Linked DNA regions of Homo sapiens: region 1 is linked to region 2. The links come from fine-mapping of genetic effects on gene expression. Tissue or cell type: whole blood. Region 2 holds a variant in brackets; the other region holds the start of a gene. All regions are shown on one strand. Distances are from middle to middle.

Evidence for each region. PIP is the estimated chance that this variant, and not a neighbour inherited with it, causes the effect.
Region 1: it holds the start of CSNK1E, and the variant in region 2 is fine-mapped to the expression of CSNK1E in whole blood (TOPMed, PIP above 0.99).

The regions. Positions count from the first base shown.
Region 1 is chr22:38,316,218-38,318,839 of GRCh38, forward strand. It overlaps CSNK1E (casein kinase 1 epsilon), which reads right to left and starts at 1,216. Exons shown (of 11, transcript NM_152221.3): 1 at 943-1,216. The region is part of intron 5 of TPTEP2-CSNK1E (TPTEP2-CSNK1E readthrough); the gene reads right to left. RefSeq lists a silencer at 544-933.
Region 2 is chr22:38,633,559-38,636,314 of GRCh38, forward strand. The region is part of intron 6 of FAM227A (family with sequence similarity 227 member A); the gene reads right to left. Among named protein-coding and RNA genes, the nearest start is that of FAM227A, 21 kb to the right of the region's middle. The variant C/T (reference allele first, on the strand shown) is at 1,101.

The sequences.
Region 1 (2,622 bases), 320 kb before region 2:
TTACTCCCCGAACACCATCGCCTACCCCTGAGCCGGGGCCCTTGTCCCTCGGACGATTAAAATAAAAATTGAAGGGACATCATAGAAACGAAGGCAAAGGAGACCCAAACACAGGCATTGCTTGGAAGCAACTTGAGACACTTGTGTCCCCTTCTCCTCTCTCCAAATCCTTCTCCAGGAAGGAGGCTATGCCAGGAAGAAAATATGCAAGAAAACTAAGGGAAAAGTTGGGGAGGGGGCTCACCCCACTTCGAGTTAGGGTATTAACAAGAGCTTGGGAATCCTCTAACGACACCCAGACACTGTTTTGCGTTCCTTAGAGACTTGCAAGACATCAATCTCTCACACAAAAATGGGAGAATCCGATCCGACAAATAACCCCCACCCCTTTCTTTCTCTCCACAAAGAAAAACAAATCAGTGGCCTGGTGACCACACACCTCTTCACCTTAGGACCCCCAAACGCCCGTCATCCAACGAGCGGGCGCAGCCTTGCGAACCCCCAGGTCCGGGCGCCGGGGCCGGGAGAGCAGGGGGCGCCGGTGATTGTCCGATGAAACGCTACGCGGGCCCGAATCAACAGTATCCGGCGCCCAGCACCCCAAGCCCCCTCCCTCAGCGTCCCCAAATCACAGCCGGGGTGGCCGCCTGGCCGGCCGGGGCCTCGGAGGGCCCAGCGGGGGGAAGCGGAGGCAGGCCGGCCGGGGGGCCTCCCCCGCGAGCCTGCAAAATAACAGGCCCCCTCCTCCTCGTCCCCAGCCGCGCCTTTGTCCTCGCCGGGCCGAGCGGGCGGCGCCCGGGCTGCCCCCCCTACACCCCAGCGCGAACGCGCGTGTGTCTGCCCTCCCTTCCCTCCCTCTCCAGCAAAAACAAAGAGGCTGAGGGAGCCCGATTCCCCCCAGGTTTGCACCCTTCCGCGGGCCCGCGGCCCCCCGATATTTACCCCGCCGGGAAGGCGCCGATGCCGGGCCACTGCTCGGGGGGCTGCCGCGGGCGGGGGCGGCCCGCCGGGGCGGATGCCGGAGGATTCGCGGAGCCGCCCGGCGCGCCAGCCTCTCCCGGCCCAGCCGCCGCCGCCGCCGCCGCCGCCGCGCTCCGCTCGGCCCCGGCCGGGCTCTGGCTCTGGGCTCTCGCCGCCGCCGCCGCCGCCGCCGCCGCCTCCCTCCTCCCGGCCTCCTGCCCGCCCGCCCGCCCCCGCCGCCGGCTCGCGCGCTCTCGCACCGCGCGCGCCCGCCGGCTCCCATTGAGCCCCGGGCCCGCCCGCTGATGTCATCCCCGGCCCGCCGCCGCCGCCCCGGAGGATTTAAAGGGCCCGCGCCCTCCGCGCTGGGGGCCGCAGCTGCGAGACGCAGTTCCCCAGCCTCAGTGCAGGCGCGCGGGCTTACGCGTGGGGGTGGGGGAGCACACAGATACTGACACCCTAATGCAGTCCAGGGCACAGGTGGAAAAGACGGGGTGCGGGGGGGACAGAGGGAAGAGGAGGGCGCACAAAAAGCGGAGGTGAGGGGATGGGAGGGGAGGGTCTAGACCCAAAGTCTCCTCTCCCCGCCTGCCAGGATCTCTCTCCTCTCCAGGCAGAGCACTGGGCCCCTGCGAAAACAGGCGGCTATTCACGACACTGCAAAAGATGTTAGACTGCTGGAGGCTCAGTCCGCCTCCAGGTTCCGAGTGCCGCAGAGAACACAGGCCAGGTTGATTCAGGGCAAGAGATTTGAGGAGACAGCTAGGGATGTCGACACAAGGCCCAGAAAGGTAGCCTGGGCTCATACATTCTCCTCCCGTGGAAAAACGAAGGGCAAAGACCTCTTCTTCTTTTCCCTGAAGCTCAAACTGTGATGGGCACAGAGAGGACCCCTCAGATCCCAACCTCATTCTCCCCTGTTGAAGGAGGGGTGCCACAAGTACCAAAGCACCGACACTTGAGTCTGGGCTCCGAGTGGTGCACGTTTAGCCAAGCCACCTCCCAGCTCTGAGCTTGGGTTTCCTTAAACAGCAAATGGGAGGAAGGACCCTGTCCTCCCCAGGTCACAGAATTAATAAAAGCTTCTACCGGCATGCAGAGCCGCGATGAAAGGTTGCAGAACAAAGTCATTAAAGTGATGATATTTACACTGAGCCATGCAAAGCTTCCAATTATGACACACCTATATTCACACAGTTGTGACTGTGGACACGCAAAATGCCTGAGGCCCTGCGTCCAATCCCGGAAGCACAGTTCCTGGGAGGAGTCACTTCTATAATAGCCGTATCTTCCCTCCTCGAGGCTGAGGGACTGAGTCACACACGTGTCCAAACGGGCAGGAGCCCCACAGACTAAGTCCTTTCGCCGGCCAGGAAACTGGCCCAGAGAGGGGAAGGGCTTTGCCCAGGACCACAAAGCCCAACAGGACAGCTCTGTTCTCCCAGCGATCACCAGGAAACTGGGTCTATCTAGAGCCCATTTCCAAGAGCAGGAGAGTGAGAAGCCTCCTCCCAGGAGGGCCTGCCTTCAGTGACACCTTTGCCAGAGCAGGGGGTCACCAGCCAGGTGGTGGGCTTTACTTGGCCTGCGCGGTGCTTTCTGTTGTTGTTTTGTTAATTAATCCCCAAAGTTTTTTTTTTTTTTTTTGCTTTTTGTTTTTGT
Region 2 (2,756 bases):
TTGAGATGGAGTCTCACTATATCCCCAGACTGGAGTGCAGTAGTGCCATCTTGGCTCACTGCAACCTCCACCTCCCGGGTTCAAGCAATTCTCCTGCCTCAGCCTCCTGAGTAGCTGGGATTACAGGTGTGTGTCACCACGCCTGGCTAATTTTTGTATTTTTAGTAGAGACAGGGTTTCACCACATTGGCCAGGGTGGTCTTGATCTCCTGATCTCGTGATCCAACCACCTTTGCCTCCCAAAGTGCTGGGATTACAGGCGTAAGCCACTGTGCCCGGCCTATCATCTTATAACCTTGTAACTCAGAGACCAGTGGTAATATCTATGTATTTCATTTAAAATTTTCCCACGTGTGCACTTACATAGATTGAATTATTGGCCAGGTGTGGTGGCTCACACCTGTGATCCCAGCACTTTGGGAGGCGGAGGCAGGTGGACCACTTGAGGTCAGGAGTTCAAGACCAGCTTGGCAAACATGGGGAAACCCTGTCTCTACTAAAAATACAAAAAATTAGCCAGGCATGGTGGCTGCATATCTGTAGTCCCAGCTACTCAGGGAGGCTGAGACAGGAGAAGTGCTCGAACCCAGGAAGGGGAGGTTGCAGTGAGCTGAGACTGTGCAACAGCACTCCAGCCTGGGAGACAGAGCAAGACTCTGTCTCAAAAAAAAAAAAAAAAAAAAAAGATTGAATTGTAGAGAGTTTTCCATACTGATACTTTTCATTCAACAACACAGCATGAAATGTTAACATACACTCTTTATAAACATTCACTTTTATCATCACATTTTATCATGGCTACACAGTCCATGATATAGATGTCAAAAATGACCATGCTGTTCCTCTATTATTGACCATTAAACTGTTTCTAATAACACTAATCATACAAACTACCGTTTTCTTAGAATTTATGACTTTTAGCACTGTGCTAGGCACCTTTACATGCATTATCTTATTTATTTCACAATAACACCTCAAGGTAGAGACTGATTTTATCTCCATTTTACAGGAGAAGAAATTAAAGCTCAGAGAGGCGCTTAACCACCCAGATGTACTGCTTTCCACTTCCTTGCTATTGTAACGAACACTGTGGTGAGCAT[C/T]TTTGTACACTGTCCTGTAGGGAACGTGATGCTCTGAGCACCTGTCCCTCCTACTGCCTCTCCCGAGGAAAGCAGGAGCAAAGGGAATCAGGTACCCAACACCTGGGCCACCGCTGCCAGGCCCAGAGACCAGCGCCCCTTCCACTGACTGACTGCAGGCCATGCCAGCAAACAGCACTGTCATTCTGGGCAGTGACTGGCCCAAACAGATCATCTCTCTTAGGAAGTCCGAATGTAAGAAACAGATGGGACCGACATAGCCCAGAGAGAAGGCAGCAGGAAGAAGCCATGAAGAAGAGAGGAGGGGGTCGGGCGCAGTGGCTCACACCTGTAATCCCAGCACTTTGGGAGGCTGAGGCGGGCGGATCACAAGGTCAGGAGATCGAGAACAGCCTGGCCAACAGTGAAACCCCCGTTTCTAATAAAAATACAAATATTAGCTGGGTGTGGTGGCACATGCCTGTAATCTCAGGCAGGGGAATCGCCTGAATCAGGGAGCGGAGCTTGCAGTGAGCTGAGATCGCGCCACTGCACTCTGTCCAGCCTGGCGACAGAGCGAGACTCTGTCTCAAAAAAAAAAAAAAAAAAAAAGGAAGGAAGGGCATGGGGAGAAGGAGAGGGAGACAGAGATAGAGAGATGGGGTGTGGCTCAAAGCAGCAGTGAGAACTACAGGTAGAACAGACTGAGATGCTGGGTCTCAGGAATGGTGGGGTGACTGGTTAGGAGCTCAGGGGACAATGATCAGAGCTGCTTTGGGGACAAGAGTTATGTGATGAAGAGCCATGAGGCACAGCTGTACAGTGGCCGAGACCATTTCCTGGGCTTCCTCCCTTCTCCAAGACCTCCCTACAAGGATCTCCCATCTCCAGAGTTGCCAGTGTTTGTGTCGCCTGAGCAAACAGGTTCCTCTGGGCCTTAGAATACTTCCTTGCTTTCTTCCCAAGGAACCCAGCATGCTCTAGTGCGCAGCTCTGCAAGGAAGCATACTCACCCCCAGAGGCATGAGAAGAAAATATTCTAACTAATGTCTACATAAGAAAGAAAAGCAATTGGCTGGGCATAGTGGTTCACACCTGTAATCCCAGCACTTTGGGAGGCCGAGGATGGGGAGGGGAAGATGGCTTGAGCCCTGGAGTTGGAGAATAGCCTGGGCAACCTAGCAAGACCTCCTCTCTACAAAAAAATTTTTTTAAAAACTAGCCAGTGTGGTGGTGCATGCTATTCAGGAGGTTGAGGCGGGAGGATCACCTGAGTCTGGGAGTTTGAGGCTGCAGTGAGCTATGATAGTGCCACTGCATTCCAGCCTGGGTACAGAGGGAGACCCTGTCTCAAAAAAGTAAGAAAAAAGAAAAAGAAGGAAAGAAAGAAGAGAGAAAGAGAAAGAGAGAGAAAGAAGGAAAGAAAGAAAGAAAAAAGAAAGGAAGGAAGGAGGGAGGGAAGAAGGAAACAGAAAAGAAAAGAAAAAAGAGAGATTAAGCATACTCATATGCATTGTAGTGATTGGCAACAGAATAAGTATATAATTTATAAACAGACACGTTTCAATGAGGGTTTGTGATAAAAATTGCACACCAGTAGGATATGTGATCAAAACAGTCTGAAGACCGTTGCTCTGGTAGAAGGAATCTAGGTTTTGCAGTGAGGTTGGGCTAGGG